Linked DNA regions of Homo sapiens. The protein of the gene in region 3 purifies or fractionates together with the protein of the main gene of each other region. This does not show direct contact. Each region holds a gene or a part of one and is shown on either strand. Other genes may lie near its edges.

What was found.
Region 1: the proteins of MAST3 (region 3) and CCNT2 purify together in Homo sapiens (affinity purification with mass spectrometry, with the first as the bait; one large-scale study listed by BioGRID). This does not show direct contact.
Region 2: the proteins of MAST3 (region 3) and DRG1 purify together in Homo sapiens (affinity purification with mass spectrometry; one large-scale study listed by BioGRID and IntAct). This does not show direct contact.
Region 4: the proteins of MAST3 (region 3) and LARP1 purify together in Homo sapiens (affinity purification with mass spectrometry, with the first as the bait; one large-scale study listed by BioGRID). This does not show direct contact.
Region 5: the proteins of MAST3 (region 3) and MRPS31 purify together in Homo sapiens (affinity purification with mass spectrometry; one large-scale study listed by BioGRID and IntAct). This does not show direct contact.
Region 6: the proteins of MAST3 (region 3) and EIF2S1 purify together in Homo sapiens (affinity purification with mass spectrometry; one large-scale study listed by BioGRID and IntAct). This does not show direct contact.
Region 7: the proteins of MAST3 (region 3) and SRGAP2 purify together in Homo sapiens (affinity purification with mass spectrometry, with the first as the bait; one large-scale study listed by BioGRID). This does not show direct contact.

What each region holds. Positions count from the first base shown.
Region 1 is NC_000002.12:134,949,548-134,953,774, forward strand, and holds part of CCNT2 (cyclin-T2), read left to right. Parts: intron 1-3,093; coding exon 3,094-3,164; intron 3,165-3,682; coding exon 3,683-4,227. UniProt on the Homo sapiens protein: Regulatory subunit of the cyclin-dependent kinase pair (CDK9/cyclin T) complex, also called positive transcription elongation factor B (P-TEFB), which is proposed to facilitate the transition from abortive to production elongation by phosphorylating the CTD (carboxy-terminal domain) of the large subunit of RNA polymerase II (RNAP II).
Region 2 is NC_000022.11:31,419,823-31,424,049, reverse strand, and holds part of DRG1 (developmentally-regulated GTP-binding protein 1), read right to left. Parts: intron 3,795-4,227; coding exon 3,625-3,794; intron 771-3,624; coding exon 640-770; intron 1-639. UniProt on the Homo sapiens protein: Catalyzes the conversion of GTP to GDP through hydrolysis of the gamma-phosphate bond in GTP. Appears to have an intrinsic GTPase activity that is stimulated by ZC3H15/DFRP1 binding likely by increasing the affinity for the potassium ions.
Region 3 is NC_000019.10:18,121,581-18,125,807, forward strand, and holds part of MAST3 (microtubule-associated serine/threonine-protein kinase 3), read left to right. Parts: intron 1-104; coding exon 105-193; intron 194-269; coding exon of another isoform or gene 270-272; coding exon 273-342; intron 343-526; coding exon of another isoform or gene 527-547; intron 548-1,092; coding exon 1,093-1,171; intron 1,172-1,636; coding exon 1,637-1,794; intron 1,795-1,999; coding exon 2,000-2,075; intron 2,076-2,358; coding exon 2,359-2,568; intron 2,569-2,684; coding exon 2,685-2,786; intron 2,787-3,061; coding exon 3,062-3,194; intron 3,195-4,227.
Region 4 is NC_000005.10:154,758,240-154,762,466, forward strand, and holds part of LARP1 (la-related protein 1), read left to right. Parts: intron 1-4,227. UniProt on the Homo sapiens protein: RNA-binding protein that regulates the translation of specific target mRNA species downstream of the mTORC1 complex, in function of growth signals and nutrient availability.
Region 5 is NC_000013.11:40,760,931-40,765,157, forward strand, and holds part of MRPS31 (small ribosomal subunit protein mS31), read right to left. Parts: intron 1-4,227.
Region 6 is NC_000014.9:67,369,850-67,374,076, reverse strand, and holds part of EIF2S1 (eukaryotic translation initiation factor 2 subunit 1), read right to left. Parts: intron 1-4,227. UniProt on the Homo sapiens protein: Member of the eIF2 complex that functions in the early steps of protein synthesis by forming a ternary complex with GTP and initiator tRNA. This complex binds to a 40S ribosomal subunit, followed by mRNA binding to form a 43S pre-initiation complex (43S PIC).
Region 7 is NC_000001.11:206,201,447-206,206,473, reverse strand, and holds the start of SRGAP2 (SLIT-ROBO Rho GTPase-activating protein 2), read right to left. Parts: upstream 2,934-5,027; 5' UTR 2,824-2,933; intron 2,631-2,823; coding exon of another isoform or gene 2,479-2,630; exon of another isoform or gene 2,367-2,478; intron 2,223-2,366; exon of another isoform or gene 1,761-2,222; intron 1,046-1,760; 5' UTR 504-1,045; coding exon 437-503; intron 1-436. Other genes in the region: protein FAM72A, read left to right, coding at 4,449-4,600. UniProt on the Homo sapiens protein: Postsynaptic RAC1 GTPase activating protein (GAP) that plays a key role in neuronal morphogenesis and migration mainly during development of the cerebral cortex. Regulates excitatory and inhibitory synapse maturation and density in cortical pyramidal neurons.

The DNA.
Region 1 (4,227 bases), on a different chromosome or scaffold from region 3:
TCCACCTGGAAAAAATTATCCCAGAATATATATCTCATGCTGTATTATTGCTGCATGATTATAATGTTTTTCTTAAATTGTTAGAGGCTTTTTCAGAGTTTATCCAGAGGAAAGGAAGTCTTCAATGAGTTGAAATGACATCTAAAACTCAGTGAGGGCTTATCTGTTCTATAGCTTGAAAAATCAGGTTATCTAGGTCATTGTTTTAGTTTAATAGTCACTAGATTAAGATTAGGTAGGCAAAATTTTTTTTTCGGGGGGGGGGTGGGGGACAGAGTCTCAGTCGCCCAGGCTATAGAGTGCGGTGGCGCAATCTCGGCTCGCTGCACCCTCCGCCTCCCGGGTTCAAGCAGTTCTCTGCCTCAGCCTCCTGAGTAGCTGGGATTACAGGTGCCTGCCACCACGCCTGGCTAATTTTTGTATTTTTAGTAGAGATAGGGTTTTCACCATGTTGGCCAGGCTGGTCTTGAACTCCTGACCTCATGATCCACCCACCTTGGCCTCAAAGTGTTAGGATTACAGGCGTGAACCACCACACCCAGCCAGTAGGCATAATCGTAATAAAAATAGTTTATATACCTGGTGCTGAAGTAAAAAGATCACAGAAAAGTAATCTGCCTTTTATCCTGTCTTTAGGTCAGAGGTTAGGTTGTGGTTTATGTGGGGTTTTTTGACACAGGAGGAGCTACCTCATTTCCATTCTGAAAAGTAAAGTTTGTTAATTTGGAGAGCAATTGAATAGGAATCTTGGAGAACTGATATGTTAAGACTTTCACCATGTTTTGCAGCAGCTTTTTTTTCTGTGTCAGTCACAAAAAGGCAATTCAAAATTAAAGACATGAAGGTGTGGCCGGGTGCAGTCACTCACATATCTTGAGCACAGGAGTTTGAGCCCAGCCTGAGCAACATGGCAAAACCACGTTTCTACTAAAAATACACACAAACCGGGCATGGTGGCGCACTCCTATAGACCCAACTACTGTGGAGGCTAAGGTGGGAGGATCACCTGAGCCTGAGACGTCAAGGTTGTAGTGAGCTGTGATAATGCTACTGCTCTCCAGCCTGGGCAACAGAGGAAACCCTGTCTGGGGGGAAAAAAAAAGACATGAAGATTTATCTGAATTGTAGAGTGAAGTGATACTACTATTCTTATTACTTACTGAAATAATTCACTTAATGATTGTGTTCCAGAAAAGAACATTGGCTTAGACAGTAGCTTTGAGAGAGAAGGGCCTCTATTTTAGGCACATACTGTGATTTTTGTGCATATAGCTAATTAATTATGTTAATGGATTATTTAACAGATTCTTTTGTTGTTCTGCTATAAAATTTAATACAGTAGGATACTTAAGAAAAACAAAGCTTACATTTTGTGTACGAGATTTTGGACCAGAACTTGAAGTGTATTTAATGTTTTACAACCAAGTTGTTAACAGAAATTGAGTCAAAACAGTTTTGTTAATGTTGGACCCAAAAGTAGAAAAATAGTCTTTTTTTTTTTCTTTTTTTTTCAAATGAGGAAGTAAAGGTCTGGGCATTAGGGTTTTTTTCATCCAAACTGGATGAAAAAGCTCATGAGACTTTAGCAGGGACTAGTCATGACATTGTCAAGGAAATTACATCTTGAAAGATTAATGGTTAAATTATAGCTTGTCTGAAGTGTCGATCTTAACATTGGCTTAGAATAGTTTACAAAAAAGCTTGCTATTACAAAATGAACCTGTAGTCTCTATTAATAGAGGTTCCCCCAGTATTGAGGTGGAATTGGCATTATTAATATTATATAATATTCTGATGTATTTGACTGATGAATATTTGAGAGTGGCTAGTAACTATTAATGACATTATTAGTTCATCAAAACCACACTACTTTGGAAAAGTGGGTCATTTGATTGTAATCAGAATTTTAAGAAAGTTGGTAGAAATTTACAATGAAGATAGTTTGCTAATATATTAATAGTGTTGATAGCTAGGAAGTATATTTGGAGGAATTTTCCCCTTTAAAAAAAAAGTCTGGGTGTGGTGGCTCACACCTGTAATTCCAGCACTTTGGGAGGCCAAGATAGGAGGATCACTTGAGGCCAGGAGTTTGAGACCAGCCTGGTCAACATAGCGAGACCCTGTCTCTGTTATTTAACAAAAAAAAGAAAGAAAGAAATGCAAAATATTGCATAGTTCCCTGTATACCCTTTAGCTTCTCCTGGTACTAACATCTTACATAACAATATATGATTATCAAAACTAGGAAGTTAACATTGGTACAATACTGTTAACTAAACCACAGATGTTATTCAGTATTCCATATTTTTCCCTATTCTAGGATCCCATGTTCCATTTAGTTGACATGTCCCTTCAAGTCTTCTCCAGTCTGTGACAGTTCTCCAATCTTTCCTTGTCTTTCATAACACTGACACTTAGGAGAATAATGGTCATTTTATACAGTGTTCCTTAGTTGGGGTTTGTCTGATGATTTCTCATTATTATGTCGAAGTTATCCATTTTGAGCAAGAATACCATAGAAGTAAATTGGGTCTTGCTTGGTGCATCATATCAAGGGGTACAGTATGTTGATACGTCTTATAACTGGTCATGACAACCGTGATCACTTGGTTACAGTGGTATCCTTAAAGTGGTTTCTGCACTTTAAAGTCACTATTTTTTTTCTCTTTGTAATTAATACATTTCATGGGGAAGATACGTTGGGATTATACAAATAACGTTTTTCCTCAAACTTTTGTCCACTAATTTTAAAGAATCTTTTGATAGATCTTGTCTGTGACAAAAATTATTGTGGTGTTTGCCTAATGAAGATTTTTTTTTTATTGGGGGGGTGATTATTTTTAATGCTACTAGATTTTCTAGAGATTCTAATTAAGCAAGTAAAATCAAGAGGGAAAGTAATCGTTACAAAAGGATTCAGCTTTGAAAATGCCGGTTGAGAGTTGTGTGTACTTCTGTGTATGCTGAGGATTTAATAGGAGGGTAAAAGTGAAGTAGATGAACTCCTAGCATTCCTTTTTAATACTGCCCACTTAAGAGAAATTTAAATCCTAAAGGCACCTTCTAAGTTTCAAATTTAAATTTTATTTTTAGAGCTAACACATGAGTTTCTACAAATATTGGAGAAAACGCCTAATAGGTTGAAGAAGATTCGAAACTGGAGGGTAAGAGAATTGACAGGGTTTAACAGAATTTCAGTCTTTTATGTAACATTTACATAGCTAACCAGTTTGAATTTTTGTGGTTAAATAATCTTTGCAGTATTCCTGAATAATTCAACGTATCTCAAGTTACATATACTCACATATTCAACTACTGAGTCCAGTGGACTTTGCTAAAGTACATTATACTTTTAAAAAATTTTTTGCAGTGATTATGACAAAAGTATCCTCTTCATTTTACAAATGGGGAAACTGAAGCCTAGACAAGTTAAATTACTTTCTGAAGTGCTGGGCTAGGATTTAACTTGTATCTGATTCTAAAATGGGTGTTTTCAATTTTTTATAGCCTTTTATGCCTCTAAGGCATTTATTTACTGACAACATAAAATCTTGAACCCCAGGTCATTTTATTTCCATATGTTTAATATATAATGTTTTTAATATATAACTTTTATAAGACAAGAAATTTGCATTAAATTATTTTGCTATATCACTGCTTCTTCTGTGTTTTATTTTAATAGGCTAATCAGGCAGCTAGGAAACCAAAAGTAGATGGACAGGTATCAGAGACACCACTTCTTGGTTCATCTTTGGTCCAGAATTCCATTTTAGTAGATAGTGTCACTGGTGTGCCTACAAACCCAAGTTTTCAGAAACCATCTACATCAGCATTCCCTGCGCCAGTACCTCTAAATTCAGGAAATATTTCTGTTCAAGACAGCCATACATCTGATAATTTGTCAATGCTAGCAACAGGAATGCCAAGTACTTCATACGGTTTATCATCACACCAGGAATGGCCTCAACATCAAGACTCAGCAAGGACAGAACAGCTATATTCACAGAAACAGGAGACATCTTTGTCTGGTAGCCAGTACAACATCAACTTCCAGCAGGGACCTTCTATATCACTGCATTCAGGATTACATCACAGACCTGACAAAATTTCAGATCATTCTTCTGTTAAGCAAGAATATACTCATAAAGCAGGGAGCAGTAAACACCATGGGCCAATTTCCACTACTCCAGGAATAATTCCTCAGAAAATGTCTTTAGATAAATATAG
Region 2 (4,227 bases), on a different chromosome or scaffold from region 3:
TCTATTAAAAATACAAAATTAGCCAGGCGTGGCGGCACAGGCCTGTAATCCCAGCTACTCAGGAAGGCTGAGGGAGGAGAATCGCTTGAACCTGGAAGTGGAGGTTGCAGTGAGCCGAGACTGCGCCACTGCACTCCAGCCTGGCTAACAAGAGCGAAACTCTATCTCAAAAAAAAAAAAAAAAAAGAAACCAAAGCCCACTATCATTTAAGATAGTAGCACAGGCTGGACACAGTGGCTCATGCCTGTAATCCCAACATTTTGGGAGGCCGAGGCAGACGGATCACTTGAGGTCAGGAGTTCAAGACCAGCCTGGCCAACATGATGAAACCCCATCTCTACTAAAAATACAAAAATTAGCTGGGCGTGGTGGTGCGCACCTGTAATCCTAGCTACTCGGGAGGCTGAGGCAGAAGAATCTCTTGAACCTGGGAGGTGGAGCTTGCAGTGAGCTGAGATCACGCCACTGCACTCTAGCCTGGGCAACAGAGTGAGACTCCATCTCAAAAAAAAAAAAAAAAAAAAAGACAGTAGGACAACTGGAATTAAGATAAACTTCTGCCAGATTCAAGATCCAATACTGTTTCCATCACAAGGCTTCCAATTCAGTCAGGCACAGACTGCACACTCAGTCAGTACCTGTTTCCTTCCACCACATCAATGAGGTCATCAGCTGTAGCATCACTACGTAGAGTCACATCGGCATTATGAATCTTGTATTCAGCCAGAATGCTCTTCACAGTTTCAGCATCCAGCTCACTCTGGGGGCACTGAAAGGGAATAGCAGATGACTAGTCAGCACAAAATTTAAAAAAAATACTTGTCAAGTGTACCAATATCCATGTACCTGGAAAATTCTAGCTAAGATGCAAACTCATTACTAAATACATCCGGGATGAGTGTCACTGACTTTTAGTAGGAAATAAATGTCCAAACTCCAAGGAAGGTGTTACACGCTGAACTGTGTTCCTCCTTCCCCCACCAAATAATTCACATGAAGTCTTAACCTCAGTATCTCAGAATGTGATGTATTTGGAGATAGGGTCTTTAAAGCGGTAATCAAATTAGAATAAGGTCATTAGGGTGGGGCCATAATCCAATACTGGTGGTCCTAATAAGAAAAGGAGATTAGGACACAGACACACAGAGCAAACACCATATGAAGTCCCATCTGTAAGCCAAGGACAGAAGCCTCAGAAGAAATCAACCCTGCCATCAACTTCATCTCAGACTTCTAGCCTCTAGAATTATGAAAAATAAATTTCTGTTATTTAAGCCACCCATCTGTGGTACCGTATTATGGCAGCACTGAAACTAACACAGAAATAATCTTAAATGTTCAAATTTGAATATTAAGACGGGATAATGGGAAAGATGTTTTGGGCAGGACAGCTGAAACCTATGCCAGTCAAATCATCTGGGCTCTGAAGTGTTAAATTTAGTAGGAAACTCTCAGTCCTCAATTCTGACAGAGAAGCAGCATTTGACAGAATTGGTCACTCCTATGTGAAACACTTTACTTGGCTTCCAGTATTTCAAACTCTTTCAGTTTTCCTTCTCTCTCTTGGTCTAAGAAGTCTTATTTCTCTGAGTCTCTTTTCTTTCTTTTTTTTCTTTTGAGACGGAGTTTTGCTCTTGTTGCCCAGGCTGGAGTGCAGTGGCGCGATCTCAGCTCACTGCAACCTCCGCCTCCTGGGTTCAAGCAATTCTCCTGCCTCAGCCTCCGAAGTACCAGGATCACAGGCACGTGCCACCACGCCTGGCTAATTTTTGTATTTTTAGTACAGACAGGGTTTTGCCATGTTGGTCAGGCTGGCCTCCAACTCCTGACCTCATGTAATCTGCCCACTTCGGCCTCCCAAAGTGTTGGGATTACAGGCGTAAGCCACCGTGCCTGGCCGATTCTCTTTTCTTTTCTTTCTTTCTTTCTTTTTTTTTTTGAGACGGAGTCCCGCTCTGTCACCAGGCTGGAGTGCAGTGGCGTCATCTCGGCTCACTGCAACCTCCACCTCTTGGGTTCGATTCTCCTGCCTCAGCCTCCCGAGTAGCTGAGATTACAAGTGCGTGCCACCATGCCCGGCTAATTTTTGTGTTTTTAGTAGATACAGGGTTTCACCATGTTGGCCAGGATGGTCTCCATCTCTTGACCTTGTGATCCGCCCACCTCGGACTCCCAAAGTACTGGGATTACAGGTGTGAGCCACTGCACCCAGCTCTCTTTTCTTTTCTATCTATACTCACATCCTTGGTGATCTCAGTTAGGCCCATGACATTAAAGTTGATAATCACCAAATTTATATATCCAGCCTAGATAATTCCTCATGCCTTCTTTATTATTTTTATAGAGATGGGGTCTCACTTTGTTGCCCAAGCTGGTCTTGAACTCCTGGGCTCAAGTGATCCTCCTGCCTCAACCTCCCAAAGTGCTGGGATTATAGATGTACAGGCATGAGCCACCATGCCCAGCCTACCCCACATGCCCTCTTGACTGAAATACCTGGATGTCTCACTGGCATCTAAAATTTAACATCCTGATCTTCTCCTTCCCTCCAAATCTATTCTACCAAAAGTCCTACCATTTTAGTAATAAGAGTTCATTTTTTTTTTAGCTCAGGAAATAAAAAACATGGCTGGGTATGGTGGCTCATACCTGTAATCCCAACACTTTGGGAGACCGAAGCAGGAGACAGCTTGAGGCCAAAAGTTCAAGACCAGCCTGGGCAACATGGCAAATCTCCGTTTCTACCAAAAAAAAAAAAAAAAAAAAAAATTAGCCAAGCCTGGAGGCATGTGACTTAGCCCTAGCTACTTAGAAGGCTGAGGCAGGAGGGTCACTTGAGCCCAAGAGTTTTGAGCTAACAGTGAACTATGATTGTGCCACTGTACTCCAGCCTAAGCAACAGAATGAAACCGACCAGCCTGGCCAACATGGTGAAACCCCGTCTCTACTAAAAATACAAAAGTTAGCTGGGTGCGATGGCAGGCACCTGTAATCCCAGCTACTCAGGAGGTTGAGGCATGAAGCAAATGCTCTTCTTCAAGATATCCACTTGGTTCACACCTTCATGTCACCTCAGTAAAGACTTCCCTGACCAACGTTCTTAAAACTGCAACCCTCACACCAACACTCTTATCTCCTTTCCCTACTTTGTGTTCTTATATTTATCATTGACGAATACATTATATTTTACTCATTAACATTGTTTTCTATTCTATCCAATTAGAATATAAAAGCAGGGGGTTTCACTATTCCCTCTTCCATTCCTGCCCAGAGCCTAAAATAATGCTTGGCCCGTGGTAGGCACTCTATAAATTTGTGTTAAATGAATGAAAACAGAAGATATTGGCGGCCATCTACTTTATGCAAGCATAATATTGGTCCACACGCCCATATCATTCCCAATAGATAATCCAAAAGAGGAAATAAGTAGCAAAGGTAAGTCTGAGACTGGCTCCTATCCTAATCTTGAAGTTTTTCTTGTCAGTCATTATAAAGTCATTGTGTTATCTCAATTAGTGCAGGGAAAAGCCAGGAAATTTTCCAATGTCAGGGTCCATGCACCCCAATCCACTCCCCATTCCAATTCCTGCAGCAGCCTGCCCCATGTCATATTCCCCACTTACAGTGGCTGTGAGATTAATGCCTCCCTTGTCCTTCTTCTTAAAGCCAATGTTGGGGGGTTTGCTGTTCAAGCGAATGCCAAAGCCTTCCAGCTCATTTTCAATTATCTTCTTATGTCCCAAAGGTTTCAGGACATCCAGAACAATCAAGATCAAGTTACAGGTTCGGGCCACTGAAGAGTAAGAAAAAAACATACGCAAGAAAGTTCAATAAAGCCTTAACTAACCCAAATACTCAAGTAGAGGTGTTTTTTCCCCCTACATTTAAGTGTCAAAGGATTTTTCTGTAATACATACATGCATACGTGAAGTTCTTATAGCTACAGAAGATTTATACCAGAAGTCAATTTGCTTTGTATGCCATGAAATCAGCACCTATTTGCCCAAGAGTTGACACATTTTCTGTTGCCCAGGCTGGAGTGCAGTGGCACAATCTTGGCTTACTGCAACCTCTGCCTCCCGGGTTCAAGCGATTCTCCTCCCTCAGCCACCCCAGTAGCTGGGACTACAGGCACATGCCACCATGCCTGGCTAATTGTATTTTAGTAGAGACGAGGTTTCCTCACCATGTTGCCTGGGCTGGTCTCGAACTCCTGAGCTCAGGCA
Region 3 (4,227 bases):
CCCATCCTTCTCCAGAACGGGCTGCGAGTGTGATTTAGGCTGGGCAGGTGGCTTAGCGCGGGGCCCTGGGCAGCCACCTACCCTGTCCCCTTTTCCCCCCACAGCTGCCGCAGCGGGAACCGCAAGAGCTTGGTGGTAGGAACGCCCTCCCCGACCCTCTCCCGGCCCCTGTCGCCATTGTCGGTCCCAACGGGTGAGTGTGGGAGCAGCCAGCGGGTGCTGTGTCCTGCCTCTGCCCCGCTGACTCAGTTTCCCCGCCTCCTCCTCAGCAGGCAGCAGCCCCTTGGATAGTCCTCGGAATTTCTCGGCTGCCTCTGCCCTAAATTTCCCCTTTGCCCGGAGGTGAGTGATTGCCGGCTTTGGGAGACAGTGCGGGCACCACGGGCAAGGGTTGGGCAGGGGCACGTGCTCGGTGGCTAGACCTGGCTCCTCATTCATTTCATTCACCTTTTCCCCTCCCCTGGCCCGTCTGGTGGTGGTCTCCCCCTCTGGCTCCCATTCCCGGCAAATGCATGCCATCTTGCAGCCACATCCCACGCATGGACAGGTAATTTCAACCAGCCCAGGGGGTGGGGGGTCATGGGGGGATATAGCCCTAAGAATCATTAACTCACTAAAGAAATCATTCATTCATTCACTTAACAAGAGCTGATTGAGCACCTGTCATGTGCCAGACGCTTGCATTTCATTTATTTATTCATACAACAACATTCATTAAGCACCCACTGTGTGTATGCTCTGTGCTGCGGGCTGAGGGCATGGTCGCAAATGGGCAGCTGGCCCTGAGCCCCTGGGGAGTCCTCCGTTTGGTGGGGGGTGGTCAATGTGTGCCCCAGAAGCTACAGCTCAGAGGTTGAAGCTTTGACAGGGGACACAGTGGCAGCTGGACTCACGGGGGGGCTTCCTGGAAGAGGTACCTAAAGAGAGAGAGCATGCAGTGGACTTGGTCAGCCTGTGTCTCTGTTCTTGGTTATTTTCAGGAGATCCTTCCTACAACAGGGCCAGAATATGCTGGCCACAGTGTCTGTTCTTAGTCCCCACAAACCACAGGGGCCAGGCCTTCCTTCCATCTGTTCTTGTTCCCCTCTCCAGGGCAGACGGCAGAAGATGGTCCCTCGCGTCTCTCCCATCTTCCGGCTATGGAACCAACACACCCAGCTCCACCCTCTCGGTACCCATAGCCCCACCTTGGCAGGTGGACAGGCAGATGCCGGGTTGTGGGGGGACACATCTTTGTGTGTTTTTTTCAAGGTGTTGGATAGTTGTGCAGTCAGCAAACATACTAGTTACTTCCTCCATGCACGCCCCATTCTGGGAAATGCAGGGTCCCCTGAGAAGACCCAGCCTTGGCCCCAAAATAGTCCCTGGTTGGGGAGATACAGATATCCTCAGCCTATGGGGTCAGGGCCTGACCAGAGGGGGACTTGGGGCTGCCCAGGGGTACAGGCAGAGAGGACTTCCTGGAGGAGAGGGCATCAGAGCTAGGGTTTTGAGGGATGCATAGGAGCTAGGCAGGAGAAAGGATGTTACCTTCTGATGGCCAGCAGGCAGCCTGGGCCTTGAGGGGTGGTGCTGGGTTCCTGGCCACAGCACTGACGGTGAACTCATGGCTCTGATCCCCACCACTCTCTACCAGTCAAGCTCATCCTCCCGGGAACGTCTCCACCAGCTTCCCTTCCAGCCGACGCCGGACGAGCTGCACTTCCTGTCCAAGCACTTCCGCAGCTCAGAGAATGTGCTTGATGAGGAAGGCGGCCGGTCACCCCGCCTCCGACCCCGCTCTCGCAGTCTCAGGTGGGCCGCGACCTCTGGCCCCAGCCCCGGCCCCTCCCTGGGCTGGTGTGGAGGCCCAAGTTGTGGCTCCTCCTTCACCCCAGCCCTGACCCTGCCTGAGCCTAGCCTCTGATTCTTGTCCCTCAACCCTGGCTCAGATCCCCCAACATCCTCCCCTGGGGTTGGTCTCAGGTCCCATATCACAAGCCAGCTGTCTTCCTTTCAGCCCGGGCCGTGCAACGGGGACCTTCGACAATGAGATTGTCATGATGAATCACGTGTACCGGGAGAGGTTCCCCAAGGTGGGCAGCGCCTGGCGGCTGGACCAGCCCCTGCACTTCTTTCCACATTGCTGTCCCTCCATGGAACTCTGTCTTCCTGGCTATGTCCCCTTTGCCAGTCTGTTCATTTCTGTCTTTCCTTCCCCTTCCGTTGAAAGATGTCGTTCCTCCTGCACCAGCCCTCCCACCCGATCGCCCCATTGCCCCATCTCCTCTCTCCCCAACCATGCCTCTCCTGCCCCATTCTGCGTGTGTCACTCCAGCCCCGCCCTCTGACCAGGTCGCCCCGTCTCGCCCCACCCAGGCCACAGCACAGATGGAGGGCCGTCTGCAGGAGTTCCTGACGGCCTACGCGCCCGGCGCCCGGCTGGCGCTGGCTGATGGCGTCTTGGGCTTCATCCACCACCAGATCGTCGAGCTGGCCCGAGACTGCTTGGCCAAGTCTGGCGAGAACCTCGTCACCTCCCGCTACTTCCTAGAGATGCAGGAGAAGCTGGAGCGGCTTCTGCAGGATGTGCGTGGTTTTTCGCATGTTGAGGTTTTGCATGCAGTGGGACGTGGAGTGAGGGGGGTCCCCAGGCCAGACGGTGCTGAGGACCTGTGGGTGATGCCACGACCCACCTCCCCCAGGCCCATGAGCGTTCGGACAGTGAGGAGGTCAGCTTCATCGTCCAGCTTGTCCGGAAACTGCTGATCATCATCTCACGGCCAGCTCGGCTGCTGGAGTGTCTGGTAAGTTTCTCTTTCTACGGCCAGCTTGGGGTCCAGGCAGAACTGAGATTGGGACCACAACAGTCCTGCCAAGATACAGGTGACAGTTCCCATCGTGTAGGGCTTTGAGAGGAACACAGGGTGCTATTGGGCTAGCGTGGGCTTCCCTAAGGAGGCAGCGGGAGTGGAGACCCAGTGGGTGAGCTGGGAAGGGTGCTCCAGGCAGAGGGAACAGCATGTGCAGAGGCCTGCAGGTGGAACCAAGCCCTGGGTGACCAGCCCTCCTGTGCCCCTAGGAGTTTGACCCTGAGGAATTTTACCACCTGCTGGAGGCGGCTGAGGGCCATGCGCGGGAGGGCCAAGGCATTAAGACTGACCTTCCACAGTACATCATTGGGCAGCTGGGCCTGGCCAAGGACCCCCTGGAGGGTAAGCCGGGATGGGAAGAGGAAACCAAGGCTGGGAAAGGCCGGATGGAGGCCAGGCACGGTGGCTCACACCTTTAATACCAGCACTTTGGGAAGCTAAGGCGGGCAGATCACTTGAGGCCAGGAGTTCGAGACCAGCCTGGCCAACATGGTGGAAACCCCCCCCCTACTAAAAATACAAAAATTAGCTAAGTGTGGTGGCGCATGCCTGTAATCCCAGCTACTCAGGAGGCTGAGGCACAAGAATTGCTTGAACTCAGGAGATGGAGGTTGCAGTGAGCTGAGATCGCGCCACTGCACTCCAACCTGGGCGACAGAGCGAGACCCTGTCTCAAAAAAACAAAAAAAGAAAGGGCAGATGAAGCCAGGATTCAAACCCAGGCCCATCCGATTCCAGAACCACCGCACTGTTCTTTGTCTCTCTGTGGCCTTGCTCTTAGGTCACCTGTGGGAATTATGCTGAGACCCTCTGATCTTTTGGGGCCCAGGGGCCTCAGTGTCCTCAAATGCCACGTTAAGATGGTCAGGAAGCCTGGGGACCAGTGTTAGCAGTGGCCTTCCCTTTGTCCTGCAAATTCACAAATGACTTTACCAATTTCTGTGGCCTTTACTGTGGCCCAGAAAGTGAACTTGGAGTCAAACAGGACAACCCGTAGGTAAGAAGACGGTCAAAAACTCCCACAGCCGGCCGGGTGCGGTGGCTCACGCCTGTAATCCCAGCACTTTTGGGAGGCCGAGGTGGGTGGATCACAAGGTCAGGAGTTCAAGACCAGCCAGGACAACATGGTGAAACCCCATCTCTACTAAAGATACAAAAATTAGCCGGGTGTGGTGGCGTGTGCCTGTAATCCCAGCTACTCGGGAGGCTGAGGCAGGAGAATCATTTGAACCCTGGAGGCGGAGGTTGCAGTGAGCCGAGATCACACCACTTCATTCCAGCCTGGGCAACAGGGCAAGACTCTGTCTCAAAAAAAAAAACAAACAACTCCCACAGCCAGCCAGGTGCAGTGGCTCACGCCTGTAATCCCATAATC
Region 4 (4,227 bases), on a different chromosome or scaffold from region 3:
ATCGTGGGAAGAAGACAGCTTGGCTGGCATCTCACCTTTTCCTCTGAGTGGAGAAGCTGACTTGCTTTAAGTGCCCAAAGCAAAATTCTGAGTAAGGGTAGATTTGCTCTGTTATTGTTTTTTGGAATCTTAAGGCAAGAGAGTGTCTACTTGTTGGTTTAGAACCTTTGGAATAGGTTTTGACAGCCTAACTCAAGTTAATCCAGTAGCTTCTCTCTCTAAGCCTGTTGTTAGGGTTTGTGTGCATTTTGAGAGAGAATTCTATGATTGGGTTGTCAGTCTGGTAAGGCTAGATGATGACCCTTTCTCTGGAGCCTACGTGGATCTCTGAAGTGCTTTTCCAGCCCTGGTTTTATTTACAGCTTCGACAAATTTAAACGTGACACTAGTGGAGTGGCTGTGTGGTCTTGGGAATTTTTGTGTTCTGTGATGCACATGTTTTTGGGAGTCTACAGAAATGAGTACCTCATAAGCAAACTAAAAGCTTTCCAAAGCTTGCTGTAAATGCCTATTTTTAGCCTTACTTTTGGCTCAAATGTTGGTGTTTTAGTTCTTTAAGGGACACATGCAGTAACTAGTAATAAAATATGTTTCGTGATATCTCTACTTTCTTGTGGGGTTCTGTATTCTGGTTTAAGCGTCCAAGTCTTACATTTGTAGTTTTAAGTCTTGGGATTTGCATTTTGGTTTTTTAGATCTCCCTCCCTCCCCAGAGTATTTTTAAATGTTTAAAATTTTTGTCTTATCCTAGCCATACCCCTTTTAAGTATAAGATCCAAGACGTCTAAGTTAAGAGATGATACATAGCGAATATTCTGGGGTCAAACTGAGTGGGTTCAAATGCCACTGTACCACTTGTTAGCTGTGCTTCCTTGGGCAAGTTATTTAACCATTCTATGCCTCACCTTCTTAATTTGTGTAATAGGTATTTATGATTCACCTGCCTCATGGGGGTATTACCAGCATTCATTGTTATGATAAGTGTATTTAGCCCAGTGCCTGGCAGGTAGACATTGTTACTTACTCTGGGTCTTGGTGGGACTTTTCCCTGGGTCTCTGGTTTTCTCTACCTGTAATATGATGGGGTTGGTGAATGCAGATCTTTCCTTTTCTTGTGTTATATAAGTACTCCGTGAAATGTATGGGATCTGTCTCCTTAAAACTTGACTTTTGCTTATCCACAGACATGAAGGGCATGGATGGATAATTTAAAGGTTGCTGACTCTTAAGAATTAGCTATTTTTTGCTTTGGAATGTGGTGAGATGAATTTTAAAAAAATAAGTTTTAACTTTTTAGTTTGCCTTTTGTAAAGATTTTCTTTGGGGGGAGTTGCACGTGTGCTCTCAGGGATATGAGGAAAAGCCAGCCTAACTGGACTGAAAGTTTGCTGTGGCTGGTGCACATGTAGTGCCGTGAGACTTGAGAGTACAGATAGTCCCCAACTTATGATGGTTCAATTTATGATTTTTTGACTTTATGTTGTTGGGAAAGTGATACACATTTATTGGAAACTGTACTTCAGGTACCCATACAACCATGGTTTTTCACTTTCAGTACAGTATTCAATAAATTAATTACATGAGACATTAAACGCTTAAAATAGGCTTTATGTTAGATGCTATGGCCATCCGTAGGCTAATATAAGTGTTCTGAGTGCATTTAAGATAGGCTGGGCTAAGTTTGTTTGTTTGTTTGTTTGTTTGTTTGTTTGTTTTTTTGGAGACAGTCTGGCTCTGTCGCCCAGATTGGAGTGCAGTGGTGTGATCTCGGCCCACTGCAACCTCCACCTCCCGGGTTCAAGCGATTCTCCTGCCTCAGCCTTGAGAGTAGCTGGGATTACAGGCATGTGCCACCATGCCCGGCTAATTTTGTATTTTTAGTAGAACGGGGTTTCTCCATGTTGGTCAGGCTGGTCTCAAACTCCCGACCTCAGGTGATCCACCTGCCTTGGCCTCCCAAAGTTTTGGGTTGGGATTACAGGCGTGAGCCACCGCGCCCGGCCCTAGGAGCTACTTCTGATCCTGCTCATGACCAGCAATGTGGACACCGGCAAACGCTTTGCTTTCTCTGTGCCTGTTTCTTCGTCTGTAAAATCAGGGTATTAGACTAGGTCTAAATGTCTTAAAATTTTTCTAGTATCAAAAATTTTTTTCTAAAACTCCCTCCCCACAAAAGAAAGAAACCAAAGTAGAGCTTTATATATGTGTAGCTTTGTATTTGCGTTGTGATTAGGAATCCAAGCTCTCTGGAGGCTGGAGAAACTCTTCTGGCTTCAGGAGCCTAAGTCGATGGCTTGGGGGTGTATAATGGAGCAGCCAGACATTATGTGCCTTACAGTGTCTGAAAGCACACAGCACTGCCTGAAAATTTCCTCCACCAAATAAAAACTGAACCTAAATCTAACAGAACCATAGATCCAACTGCCAGTTTATAGGGAAATGGGGCTACAGGAACAGACTAATTAGCCATGAGGTAGGCAGTTATTCAGTTTCTAAATGTGAGAAATTCTACAAGACACACTATTTCCAATAAATAAATGGCATTTTTTAAAGGGAAGAACTGTTACAGATGAAGAAAGTTGAGACATCAGTCGTGCATTGTTGTGGATCTTGTTTGGATCTTGATTCTTGACCAAATGTCCAAAGACATTTTGATGACAACTGAGGAAATTGACTAAGTTAAGAAATTATCTTATTTTGTCAGGGGTGATAATGGTATTATGATTGTTTTTAACTGTGTAACTGGATATATTGTGCACCCCCACCTAAGAACTGTTAGGTTAGTCTATTACATAAGACTTAAGGCTTTTTCCTATTGTGCACTTGATCTTAGCCAAAAGGCCAAGAAGCAATATAGTGTGAATCACTTTCTCTTCTTCTAAGGAAAGGTCACAATTAGGACACCCTTTGAAGGGGAGAGTGGGAGGCAGCTTTCATCGGGAGCCTTCAGCTGGCCTGGCCCCTTTCCTTTTGCACAGGTAGTTTGAGTTTCATACTAACCCGGAAGTGAGTGCCTGCCAGGTAGGGGAAGGTTTTTAGGAAGTGGTTTTTGGCCCTTTGGGAGGTAGAGGGTAGTCACAAGCTTTCTTGAACTCTGAACCTCCTGAGGGTCGGGGTCTTTCTGCTGACCCACCCACTGTCTATAGTGGGACCTGAACTGGAGTAAGCAATCTTAATAGCTGTTACTGAGCACCCATTCTCTTTTCTGGGAGGTGGGCAGGGTGGGAGGAGGAGGAGGAGCAGCCGGCCTGAAACTACAAAACCTCTTTAAGATGGAGAGCTTGGCAGATGGGAGTTCCCCTGTTTGCAAAACCCAAGACAGCTCAAAGGGAGTAATTAGGGTGTTGGGGCCACTGGAGGTTCAGCAGGTGCCTCAGTCCAGACTCAAAAACCTCCCTGGCTGGTCCAGAGTGATCTAAGGGAGTGGCCAGGAGAGAGGATGGCCTTACCTTGCCTGGGATTCAAGAAAGGAAGTAAGTTTTGGTACCTCGCTGGTGAAAACATGGGAAACAGCACATCAATGTGAAGGGAGAAGGTGATGGGATTTAAATTAGAACATGGGCAGGGTACTTCTCTCTGCTCTCACTTTGTGACCTTAGATTGTTTGTCTAACCTGTTTTCCTTATTCACAGAATGGGGCTAATCCCGGTGCTGAGGTTGTTTAGAGCGTCAAATTGCTGTTGAGTATGGGGCAGTACAGTTCATGAATTGAAAAAGTCCTGCTGGGCGCGGGGGTTCACACCTGTAATCCTAGCACTTTGGAAGGCCGAGGCGGGCGGATCATGAGGTCAGGAGTTTTAAGACCAATCTGGCCAGCATAGTGAAACCTCGTCTCTACTAAAAATACAAAAAAATTAGCCAGGCATGGTGGCGTGTGCCTGTAGTCCCAGCTACTCAGGAGGCTGAGGCAGGAGAATTGCTCGAACCGGGGAGGCGGAGGTTGCAGTGAGCTGAGATCGTGCCACTGCACTCCAGCCTGGGTGACAAGAGCAAGACTCCATCTCAAAACAAAACAAAAAAACCAAAAAAACCTCCTACACAGAGGTAAGATGTAAGTTTTTTTTTTTATTTCAGAAGATTGCATTCCAAAGCCAGATATTGGTAATTACTCACTCTGAGGGTTTATCTGTGCCTTTCCGGAACTGAGTGGATAATCAGGAGTTAGCTGAATTTTCAACAAGGGCTATTTGTGGTAGTTACCAGGGGCAAGTGGCCAACTTCACATGG
Region 5 (4,227 bases), on a different chromosome or scaffold from region 3:
CTAAGTTATGAAAGATCTAAAATCTGATAGGAATAGAAGAAAAAGAGAAGAATTAAACAAGGGGTCGGGCACGGTGGCTCATTCCTGTATAATTCCAGCACTTTGGGAGGCTGAGGCGGGAGGATCGCTTGAGCCCAGGAGTTTGAGACCAGCCTGGGATAGAGAAAAAAAGAAAAGAAAAAAAAAAATTAGCCAGGTGTGGTGGCATGTGCCTATAGTCCCAGCTACTGGTGAGGCTGAGTGGGAGGATCACTTGAGCACAGGAGGTAGAGGCTGCAGTGAGCCATGATTTTTCCACTGCACTACAGCCTGAGGCACAGAGTGAGAGTCTGTCTCCAAAAAAAAAAAGAAAAGAAAAATAGAGAAATATAAGTTAAAATAAAATGTGCTTTTAAAACTTATCTGTGAATAAAGCTTTAACCTTGTTCCAAAGTCATTGTATTTCTTTCATAAACTACTTGTGAACTTCATTTTCAAATTTTAATATATTTGATCAAAGTATACACAGAACATAGATGAATATTCATTTTCTAGAATCATACATTTCATAACAATGGTTTCCTATGTAGTTATACTCTCTGGCTTTATAATTTGAAATGTTCTAATTAATAAAAAATTGTGGGGGAGCCTCTGTCATTGAATAATTTTTACATACAGGGATCTTTCTTCATATATTTTAACAATGTAAGGAGAACTTGTTAAAGTATCTTTTAACAATCTATTCTATCCTGTAATTAAAACCATTTCATTAATACAAACTTTTCCCCTTCATAACATTCTGTACTTTTTAAATTTCTTTAAAATAAACTGTATGACATACAATTTCAGAAAAGAATTCTGATGAGGGAAAGAAACTGAGTGGATACTTAAATTGGCACCGCTTTTGGCAGGCAACTTGGTGCCATATATCAAAGGCAAAAAATATATATATGCACATCTCTTGACCTAGCAATTCCACTTCTAAGAATATGTGTTTAAAGAAAATAAACAGAAAAAAAAAAAAAAGAAAGAAAGAAAGAAAAAATAAACAGCTGGGCATGGTGGCTCACGCCTGTTATCCCAGCACTTTGGGAGGCCAAGGTGGGCAGATTACTTGAGTCCAGGAGTTCATGACCAGCCTGGACAACATAGTGAAACATCGTCTCTACAAAAAGAAAAAAAAAAAACTAGCCAGATGTGATGGTGCATGTCTGTAGTCCTAGCTACTCGGGAGGCTGCGGTGGGAGGATTGCTTGAGCCCAGAGGTAGAGGCGATTGTGCCACTGCACTCAAGCCTGGGGAATAGAGCAAGACTCTGTATCAAAAAATGAAAGAAAAGAAACAAATTTGTGGAATTTGAAGGATACTGCATACTCCAACCTCAAGGCCTAAGCAGTTCTATCCTCTATGCCTGAAAAGGAATTCATCTTTCAGATATCTACATGGCTTTATCCCTAATTTGATTCTAATCTTTGCTCAAATGTTACCTTATCAGAGTTCTTCCCTAATTATTCTTAAAAATAGCACCTCTCCAGCCCCCTCATTCTTTTTTTTTTTTTTCCCACCCAGGCTGGAGTACAGTGACACAACCACAGCTCACTGCAGCCTCAACCTCCTCAGCTCAAGTAATCCTCCTGCCTCAGCTTCCTGAGTAGCTGGGACTACAGGTGCATGCCATCACACCCAGCTATTTTTTTTTCATTTTTTGTAGAGACTGGGTCTCACTATGTTGGCAGGGCTGGTCTTAAACTCCTAGACTCAAGCAATCCTCCTGCCTCAGCCTCCCAAAGTGCTGGGATTACAGGCTGTGCCTGGCCCAACTCCATCACTCTTATTTTTCTTCATGTTTCACCACCTGACATAGTATAGACATTGTGTGTGTGTGTGTGTGTGTGTGTGTGTGTGTGTGTGTGTGTGTGTGTGTGTGTGTGTTGTACATATATCTCCTCTCCTACATCCCTCCCCCCATTTTAATGTAGGAAGCAGAGACTTTGTTTTGTTCAATGTCCAATCTCTAGCACTTTGGATGGTGTGTGAAATATAATGGCAAGGGAAAGTTGCTGAATGAATAAACAAACATAGCATCATTTCATACTAGTGAAACACCAGAGATAATCTAAATTTCCAGCAGGGATCAATTAAGTGAGTAATAGTTAGCTGATGCCTTCCAAATGAATCAGGTTAAGAGGAAGTTAAAGCAGATGCTAGAAATTTTGGTTACTGCTGCATCACCAGGGATATTCTTAGGTTCCACTAAACATTCAGACCCAAAGGACCACTACAGGTGACACCTGGCCCAGTCCATTCGGGAAGATGAAAGACAGAACCACAGCAGGCTGGCAGGGCAGCCTTGGGTCTCCTTCTCAGTGGGAGTTATTGTAGTGTTCATGCAGGTGACACTTCACACAGTCAATCATCTTAGAGTAAGGATATGAGATCTGCAAGCTGCCTGGCTTACTGCCCCACAGCAGCCAGTATCTCTTGTAACAGGGCCACATGCAGTTTCCAGGGTCCCTGCAAAAGACGTGCAGTAAGAAGAATCACTGCATTTAAGTCCTAAATATGGTATCCCCATCAGGTACCCGTAGTTCTCCCAGGCCAGATGCAATCTATGAATTAGGGGTCAATTTTGTCATGACAATGTTGCCTATAGTATAGCTGAAATTCTACAGTTATCAGGTACCAGATGTACCTGATAAGCAGATTATACTTTCAGAAAATAGTGACAGCATTACTTCTGGTTCCACATGCTCTTCCAACACATTGCCATATATCCATCAAAAGGGAGATCTATCTTCCCTCCCTGAAAACCAGGGGAAACTTTGTGACTGCCTTGATGAACAGAACAAGATAGAGGTAACACACTGCAACTTCTGAGGCTAGATCAAATAATGTGATACAGCTTTCACTTCCATCTCTCAAGACATTTGTCTGCGGAACCCAGCTACCAGGCAAGAAACCCAGGCCACATGGAAAGGCCATGGGTAAGTGTACTGGCCAAGAGCCCTAGCTAAAGCCTCAGCCAACAGCCAGTATCAACTACTGGAAAAGGGCCCTCAGACGATTCCAGATCCCAGCCCGGAATCTAGCTTAGCTAAAGATGAGTAGAGAAGACACAAGCTCTCCACCTGGGACCCTGGCTCCCAAACTGTGTCCTAAGGTACTCTGGGGCAGCACAGGAAAATACAACCATGTCAATAATGATGTAAATTAGGCAGTTCACAGTAACATTACAGCAGTCCCTTCATATCTGCAGGGGTTGGGGGGAGGTGGGGCCGTGGGATACAGGCATTGTTTCCAGGAACAGCTCTGGCCCCCACCAGGATGGATGCACAAGCCCCTTACATAAAATGGCAGAGTACCTGCATATAAGTAATGCACATCCTCCGAATACTTTTAAATTATCTCTAGATTACTTATAATACCTAATTATGTAAGTAGTTATATTGTATTTTTTTTTAATATTTTCAATCAGAAATTGGTTGAATCTGTGGATACAGAACCTGCACATACAGAGGACCAACTGTATATTGCTCCATTCCTATCAATGACATTATATCTTTGTCAAGATTGTTTCTCAGGAGTGGTTGTGATAAAAACAAATATCCCAGGAAAATCAATGTGGAACAAGGGTAAACACGGTAATGTCCAATCTTATTACAAGGCTAGGTCATTAAAAAGAAAATACAACTTTCTCTTGGCTCACTTTCTCTTGAGACACCCGCCCTGGAACCCAGCCACCATGCAGGGATAAAGCCCAGCCCACAAAGAAAGCCACATGTAGGTGTTTCTGCTAATAAGGTCTCAGCTGACAGCCAGCAGCAACTGCCAGACCTATGAGTGAGCAAACTTCAGACAATTCCAGCCTCAGACTTCTAAGTCTTCCAACTGAGGCCCCAGACATCACAGAGCACAGATTGGCCTTCCCCCACTGTGTTCTAGTCAAATCGCTAACCCACAGAATCTGTGAGCATAATGAATGAATGTTTTATGCCACTAAGTTTGGGAGGTAGTGTAGCCATGGTAACCATATCAATGAAGGTTCAATATTTAATACAAACAAAGAAAAGCAGTCTATGTATGAAGCAATGATGACAGTGTCTCATGAAGCAAAGATCATGACTAACCTAATCCCGTGCACCTTGGAGTCCTTGAAAAAGAGGGAGGGGAGGAAAAAATCATTAAAAGACACCTTTTTAAAACTCAAAACAAATGTACCTCATTCACCAGTCTTTTGATGTGGGACCA
Region 6 (4,227 bases), on a different chromosome or scaffold from region 3:
TGTTTTCAGAAATAAATTTTTATTATCAGGTAATTATATATATTCCATTACCTTACTGGAGAGAACTAATAATTTTCAATTATCCAAATGAAAGGTAGTCAAATGCCTATCTTTCCCCTATTTCTTCCTTTTCCTTCTCCAGAATAGGAAAATTCACTAAGATGTTCATTTAGTTTAAGGAAAGAGGCTATCGTCACAGAAGACACACACACACACACACACACACACACACACTGAACAAATTAAAACTATCTAATCTACTGTATGACTACCATATACAAGTAACTATGTTAGGTGCTTAAACATCTTCTTGAACCCTCACAACAATCCTGCATGGTAGATTATCACTCTCTTTCCCACAGCGCCCCCCAGTCTTTTTAACCTGAAGAAACTAAAACCCATGAAAGGTTAAGTAACTTGTCAACGTCAAATAGCCAAAAATGGCTGAAACCTACAAACCTGTGCCTGGCAATGACTTCCAGTACAATGCTGAGTAACAGTGGTGAGAGTGAATGTCTTGTTCTCAATACTGGAGGACAGCATGTCTGTGGTGTTTTTCTAGACACTCTTTATCAGATTAGGAAATTCCCTTTTAGTTCTTGTTTGCTGACTTATTATGAATGGGTGACAAATTTTGTCAAATGCCCTTTCACATCTATTAAATTGGTTGTAGTTTTCCTCCTATATTCTGTTCATATACACTGATTTTATTTCAGATTCTGAGCATTCTTTTTCATTAAAAATTGTATGACTTACATATAGTAAAATTCACCACTTTTAGTGTTAAGTTCTTTGTGTTTAAAAAAAAGAACAGTCATTTAACCACCACCAAAATCAAGTTCCATCACCCCTGAAGCCACTAAAAACTGGACACAAGTTTCTCTGTGAACATAAATTTTCCTAGAAATGGCACAGCTGGGTTATATATTAAGTACATGTTAATTTTATCTGCCAAACTTTCCCAAAGTGAATGTGGCACTCTGCATTCCCATGAGCAATGTGGAGCAGTTAGAACTGCTCCATGTCTCTCAATTGATTTTTAAAAAGTCAATCTATTGATTGTGCAGTGGCATCTCACTGTGGTTTTTATTTGCATTTTCCTAATGACTAATGATGTTCAACATCTTTTCATGTGCATATTTGCTATCCAATTATCTTCTCTGGCAAAGTGTCTATTCAAAACTTTCGCTCCTTTAAAAATTGATGGTTTAGATACAGGGTTTTTTTGTTTGTTTTTTGTTTTTTTTTTTGAGATGGAGTCTTGCTCTGTCGCCAGGCTGGAGTGCAGTGGGGCAATCTCCGCTCACTGCAACCTCTGCCTCCTGGGTTCAAGTGATTCTCCTGCCTCAGCCTCTTGAGTAGCTGGGACTACAGGCACGCACCACTATGCCCGCTAATTTTTTATATTTTAGTAGAGACGGGGTTTCACCATGTTGGCCAGGATAGTCTCAATCTCCTGACCTCATGATCTGCCCACCTTGGCCTCCCAAAGTGCTGGGATAACAGGCGTGAGCCACCGCTCCCAGCCTAGATACAGGATTTTTTAGGTTGTTCAAGAGTTTTTAAAATATGCTGGTTTGTCTTTTTATTCTCTTTATAGTGTCTTTAAAGAACATAAGTTCTTAATTTTGATAAGGTCCAATTAATCAATTTTTCCTTTCATGGATAACGCTTTTAGTGTGCTATCTAAGAAATCTTTGCCTAATCCAAGGTCAGAAAGATTCCTGTTTTCTTCTAGAGGTACTTAGAAGTTTACATCTATGATTCATTTTAAGCTAACTTTTGTATAAGGTGAGGTGTTTGAATTGAGGTTCTTTTTTGCATATGGACATCCAGTTGTCCCAGCACCATTTGTTAAAAAGATAATTTTTTCTTTGATCAGCTGCCTTTGTACTTTTGTTAATTAACTGATCATATAAAAGCACACATAAATTTTTTAATTTTTTTTTTAAATAAAAAGAAGTGAGAGATAACAAAAGAGGTGAGGTCCTGCTATGTTGCCCAGGCTGGTCTCGAACTCCTGGGCTCAAGTGATCCCCCCACCTAGGCCTCCCAAAGTGCTGAGATTACAGGCCTCAGCCACCATGCCCAGCCAACATAAAGTTATGACTGTTAAACCAAACTGGCATTCCATACACTCCACTTGGTCATGCTTTATTATCCTTTTTATACATTGTTGGATTTGAAAAACATATTAATTGTTTTATCTATGCTAATCACATATTTGGTCAGTAATTTGCTTTTTTACAAAAACATGTCTTTGTTGGGTTTTCTTATCAGGGTTATGATGGCCTCATAAAATTAGTCATGCACTGCATAACATTTCAGTAAACAATAGATTGCATATATAGCAGCAGTGCTGTTAAGATTATAATACTGTATTTTTACTGTATCTTTTCTGTGTTTAGGTACACAAATATTTACCATTGTGTTACAACTACCTAATCAGTATAGTAACATGCTGTACAGGTTTGTAGCCTAGGAATAATAGAGTATACTAAACAACCTATGTGTGTATAGGCTATAAGGTCTATGTAAGCAGCACACTCTATGAAATTTGCATGATAAGACATTTTTCAGAATGTATCTTTGTCATTAAGCACCACATGACTGTATTTCGAAAGTGTTCCCGCCTCCTTAACTTTTTTTTTTTTGGTGGGAGACAGTCTTGCTCTGTTGCTCAGGCTGTAATACAGCAGTGTGATCACAGCTCACTACAGCCTCAAACTCCTGGGCTCAAGCCGTCCTCCCACCTCAGCCTCCCAAGTAGCTGGAACTACTTTACAGGTACACACCACCACACCCAGCTAATTTTTTAAAATTTTTATAGAGATGGGGTCTCCCTATATTGCCAGGCTGGTCTTGAAATCCTGACCTCAAGCGATCCTCCTGTCTCAGCATCCGAAATTGCTGGAATTATAAGTGTGAGCCACCGTGCCTGGCCTACCTCCTTAACTTTCTGAAATTTTATTATGACTCATCTTATTTCTGCCTTAAATGTCTGATACAACTCATCAATTTAACCATCTGGCCTAGAGTTTTCCTTTTTTTTGAGACAGGGTCTTAGTCACCCAGGCTGGAGTGTAGTGGCATGACCTCGGCTTACTGCAGACTTGTTCTCCTGGCCTCAAGCAATCCTCCAACCTCAGCTTCTCTAGTAGCTGGAACTGACTAGAGGTGCACAACACCATGCCTGGGTAATTTTTCTACTTTCTGTAGAGATGAGGTTTCGTCATGTTTCCAGGCTGGTCTTGAACTCCTGGGCTCAAGCAATCTGCCCACCTCAACCTCCCAAAGTGCTGGAATTACAGACATGAACCACTGTGCTGGTCAGGACCGAATTTTCTTGATGAAAAGATTTTTTACAATAAATTCAATTTCTCTAACATATAGGACACTCAAAATTTCTATTTTATATTGGTCAGTTTCAGTAAGTAAAATTTTGCAAGGAATTCACTAATTTCACCTGATTTGTTGAGATGATTGGCATAAAATTGGTAATGATATTCCCTTATTAGCCTTTTAATGTCTGTAGCATCTGCAGTGATAGCCCCATTCTCATTCCAGATTGGTAATTTGTGTTATTTCCTTTTCTTCATCAGCCTAACTAGGGGTTTATCAATTTTGCTCTTTTTTAAAAAAACAAAAAACAAGTTTTTAACTTTGATACTGTTCTCTGATTTTCTGGTACTCTATTTTCACCGATTATCTTATCCTTATTATTTCTTTTCTTCTACTTACTTTGTGTTGGGAGAAAGCCCCCTAAAATCTAGCCATAAACTGGCCCCAAGACTGGCCATAAACAAAATCTCTGCAGCACTGCGACATGTCCATAATGGTCCTAACGCCCAAGCTGGAAGGTTGTGGGTTTACAGGAATGAGGGCAAGGAACACCTGGCCCGCCCAGGGCAGAAAACTGCTTAAAGGCATTCTTAAGCCACAAACAAAAGCATGAGTGATCTGTGTCTTAAGGACGTGTTCCTGCTGCAATTAATTCGGCCCATCCCTTCATTTCCCATAAGGGATACTTTTAGTTAATTTAGTATCTATAGAAACAATGCTAATGACTGGTTTGCTGTTAATAAATATGTGGGTAAATCTCTGTTCGGGGCTCTCAGCTCTGAAGGCTGTGAGACCCCTGATTTCCCACTTCACACCCCTATATTTGTGTGTGTGTGTCTTTAATTCCTCTAGCGCCTCTGGGTTAGGGTCTCCCCAACAGAGCTG
Region 7 (5,027 bases), on a different chromosome or scaffold from region 3:
GGTACACCTTCCCAAGGTTGCCTTTCTGTCTGGACTCCTCTTCAATCTCTGAAACAAATGTCCAAACACCTGTCAGATTTCAGTTGTCTTTCAAGGAAACCTGACCCAGAGAACCGGAGGCAAACTGCCTTTCTCTAAGAGCCTCCTGCCCCTCCCCCCACCCTGTCCGGCTTGGGGGGGAAAGGGCTGCCAAAATCATGGTCAGCCCCACAAAGATACTCCTACAGCCCACTGCAAAAATTCCTTTCCAGTGTCAATGGCCCCCTGGCATTGCCCATCCTTTGGAGGTTCAGACCCATCTATGAAACCACCTCTGGGGTCAGCCTGCCCCCATCTGCTCCACCCAAAGAAATGAACAACCTGCAAATCACGGTGGAAATACACGCCTCACCAGTCCACAGAGCATTTGCAGTGTGCTATTTTTCAAAGCCCTTACCTTTGACCTGAGTATCGTACTCTGCTATGATCTCCTTATCCTTTTTGAATTTGGCTGGAGACGTCATGTTTTCCTTCTTTCTTCCAAATTCGAATTGTGAATTGATAGATCCACGGAAAAAATCCAACCACCTAAATCAATACCTCCAAGACCGCTTCTCTCGAGGGCAGAAGGGGCCCCCCACGGTGGTCTCCAGCGCTCCGTGGAGCGCGGGCTGCGGGCTGGGCAGACGGCTACGGCGGGCACATGCAGACGGTGGGCGCTGGGGCCGGGTGCGGCGGCGGCTGGTGCCTGTGCTAGAGCCGGAGCCGCAGCCTCAGCATTAGCCGGGAGAACTGCAGCGCCCGGAGGCTGGCCTGGGGTCTGACATCAACGACACAGGCGGGGAGTGGAAGTCCTTCCGCACAACATGGTGTGGGGCTGCGGGGGTGTGGACGCGCCCAGCTGTGTCCCCGGGAGGGAGTGGGTGCTTTTCGGGGTGCCGGGGGAGGGCTGGGCGTGCTTCGCGGTTTTTTGTCGTAGAGGCTCAAAGATGCTGCAAATCAAATCCCAAACGGGAGCCGCAACAGCGCAGACTGGATCGGAAGTCGTTTGCTCCGGTTCACTTGCCTGTAAATGCAGGAAAAGGGGGAGGGGGCGATCAGCCAGAGCGCAGATCCTAATCGCGGCGGGGGTGGGGTAGGGGACGTCGTTCCGAGCCCGCCCTGGGCCCATTCCTGTCCGCTTAACGTCTCCCCGCCCGCAGAGCCTGGCGCTACGAGGTGGGGAGGAAGGAAGCTCCCTCCGGATTTTAAGGCTGAAAGAAAACACTTTGGAGCAGCCGCCTGCGCGGGCTCCGGGCGGGGACTGCAGGAACGCGGGGCACCAGGCGGGGACTGCGGCACCTCGGCGGCCTCCTGAGCCCCGCCAGCGCTGGGCAGCGGCCAGCCCGAGGGAGCCCTCCCGACCTAGCCCCCGACGTGGCCCCAGACCCCCGGCCGGGGCACCTCCCTGTACATCAAAGGGGATCAAAGCCGGGGAGGGATAAGCCACCAGGGCACAACTTTTCTTCCTCTCCCGCCCCTCCTCCCAGTTGTTTTGTTTTTGGTTACTAGCTTCTCTTGGCAGCAAAATGTTGATGGGGGGGGGGGCAAATCTGCAGGAAAAAGCCTGCTCGGCACGGGACACATCCAGGAAAACAATGTGGTCAGCTGAAGCAGGAAACGGGTTAGAGGATAGGGTCGGAGCCGGGAAAACCGGGGGGCGGCGAGCGGAAGGCAGCCGTCGCCTCCCTCAAGCTAGGGACGATAGTGACTATAAATGCCACCCCCAATATTTTTTTGACACCCAAGCTCAGAGATCCCAGATATCCCACCCAATCCCAGGCTGGGGATGGGAGGAGGTCGGTGAGGTCGCAGTCCTGACTCCTCGCACCAGGCGGTGCCCGAGAAGATCCGGCCCCGGACGAGGCCCAGGGGGCTGGAGGGACGCAAGCGGGAGCGCGGAGCCCGGCGACTAGCTCCCTCGCGTGCCGCAGCGGCGACCCTTTCTACTTGGTCTTTCCTTTTCCTCCGAGCGCCGGGAGGAGGAAGCTCCCGCTAGCGTCTCCCACTTCCCGCGGCTGGAGGAAGGGGCCACGCTGAGGGAACAAGACAGGGAGCAGAGGCGGCGGGGTTCAGGCGAGCGGGAAGCGGGAAGCGAGAGGCGGGTGTGAGATGGGGTCCTGAGGCTGGAAGGGAGCCCGGGGACAATTGGAGTTGCACACGCTCGGAAGGCGGGAGGCGGCAAGGAGAAGGCTGCCTTAGAGGTGAGGGGAATTGGGGCATGATCATGGGCCGCGATGTTGCGTGAAGCGCAAGGATGTCAGGAACTGTGGGGGCCGAGATGTGGTCTAGGGATGGGAGTGGGCGAAGAGAAGTCCATCGGGGCGGGCCGGGGGGTGGGACTCGGGGAGAGCCCCGGAAGCTGCGCGGAACACCCATCCTCCTGGGTCCTAGGCTGGGACCCGGGCTGTCCGCCAGGGCTGGGAGACACTGGAGGAGGCCGGCCGATGATTACGCGCGATGCCAACGACGACTGCCCTACGGTGGACCGCGGCTGCCCGTGTGCGGAGGAAAGGGAGAGGCGGCTGGGTGCCGGCTGCGCTGCGGTCCGTGAGCCAGGACGGAGTCCCAGGCTGTACAGTGATGGGCGGAGAGACTCGCAGTCCTGAGAAGTATTATGGGCTGTACTGGGAGATTTGGAGAGGGTGGAGGGGGGGCGGTCTGAGGGATTCCGGGCGGCACCGCTAAGGCGATGCCGCGAGCAGCATCCGCGCCCTCTCCTTCCCGCCCCAGCCCCGGTTTGTTCAGTCAGGGCTCCAGCCCGGCGGCCGGGAGGAAGAAAAGGAAGAGGGAAGGAGCCTTTACCTGGCTCTGACGCGACGGGTCCCAGGCCCCCGGCTCCGCTTCCCACTCAGAGCTCTCCTCCCCTCTCTTCCCCGCCACCCGTTTCTACGCAGATCGGTGCCCCAGTCCCTGGAGGAGCCTCCGCCAACTCCGCAGGACCCCGCCGGGAAGTAGAGCCCACCCCTTTACCAATCACCGCCCGTTTTCTATCGACCGATGGGGCCCATAGCCAATAGGAAGAGCTGATCCCGAGAGGCCCGGAATGAGGGGGAGGAGCTGGCAAAACTTGGAGGTGTGACTAGCACTGCCGAGGCGTGGTCACAGATTAAGCTCCACCCCGGGTTGTTGAACCCCTAAGTAGAACTGATGGGCGGGATTAAGGTGGAACCGACGACCAAACACAAACTCTTGAGCTAAGGCACGGCCAATTGGGCCGGGGTAGAGAGGAGGGGTGTTGCGGGGAGTTTTAACCAATAAAGAGTAGAGACCGGTGGAGACTGTAGAACCTCTTCCAATAAGAAGCGGGAAGGGCGTGCCTTGCCACTTTCACTAGGGCGAAGGCAGGGTTTGCCGAAACCTCCCGAAGCCGGCCAATGAGATCGGAGGCGGAGCCAAGCTCAGCCAACCAGAAAGCCGAATTGATCTCAGCACCGTTACTGGGGCGGTGCCTACGGTCTTCAAGCCACTAAGCTCTCGTGAGGGGAGGCCCCGGAGCCTTCCAATGAGGGACTGGGGCTAACTCTAGTTCTTCCAATCGGTGCGCGGCGCTGGCAATTCAAACTGATACCGGGTTGGAGAGGCAGGAAAAGCGGAAGAGGGAGCGAAAACCAACGTGTTCGGTGACAGACCCCAGCGCCGACTGAGCCTCTAAAGCGACTTCAGCTCTGCCCCACCAACACCACCGCGCGCCCGGGAACAGCCGCTCCGGGAAGAAACCTGAGGGGACTGCGGGGGGCACGAGGGACAGCTGAGGGAAGGGAGGACGCGAGAGAAACAGCGCGAGCACGCTGAGGGCCGGGGGTTGCCAGGAGAGGGGCCCGCGGACCCGCAGAGCGGAGGAAGGTCCGGGAGAAAAGGGGCGGGACGGAGGAGAATCCGGGATCGCCTGGCAGAAAAAGAGAAGGGAGTTTCTGAATCCTGGGAAGAGGAGGCGTGGGTAGGGACGCTTAGCCCGAGATCCGACAGCAGGGAACCGGAGCGCTCCGGGGGAGGGGCTTAATGCTGGGGAAGGGATGTCTTAAAAGAGGAGAAGCTTTAAATTAGACGATCGGAGAAGGCTGAGGGAATTGCTATGAAGGGGCGGGAGCTGAAGTGTAGAGGACTCCTTTAGACAGCAGAAAGGGAAAGCCGTTGAGAAGTTCCCTTCAAACTCCACCTGCCTCCTCTCCAATTCAAACTCCACTCCCTTCTCCAAAAGTTAAAAGGAAAGCCAAGTTTGCCACGCTCCCCTGTTCCTACTCAATAAATACTTCTTCTACTCCGCCACCGGGAAAACAGAAAAAAAAACTAATTTCCTTCCCAATATTAGGACTTAGAAAAGCTCTAGGTCCCGCAATTTGAATTTTAGCCTAGGGGAATCAAAATAGTAGGAGCATTACTCTTGTTTCCTTTTTCAAAATCCCACACCTCATCCTTCCTGCGACGCCATGTCTACCAACATTTGTAGTTTCAAGGACAGGTGCGTGTCCATCCTGTGTTGCAAATTCTGTAAACAAGTGCTCAGCTCTAGGGGAATGAAGGCTGTTTTGCTGGCTGATACTGAAATAGACCTTTTCTCTACAGACATCCCTCCTACCAAGTAAGTCATGCTAGTGGCGGGCAACGGTAGCTTTTAACTAAATGGGAACACTTATGGCTTGGATCTGTGGGAGTCAACAAGGAGGTTATCATTTCGGTGTTTCAGCCACTCCCACCAGTTTGATGATCCCCTTGGAATATATCTAAGTGGGCAGACTGTCTGGACAAAGTCTGTGGTTTAGCCAAGGTGGTCAGTCCTGATGTAATGCTTCTAGTTCAATTGCAGTCATGCGACCACACATCTCTTAAGTTTGATCCCTGGTTCAGTGCCCTGCCCAACCATCCTATTTCACTGAATCAAGTCCGTGGCGTAGACTTTAGGTAAATTCAGGCAAAATTTTCCGTACTGTTGGAGAGGAGAGGTCATTTAAGTTTTTCATTTTTATCCATGAAATTTTGCACCAAAAAAAAAAAAATCCGTTTTCTAT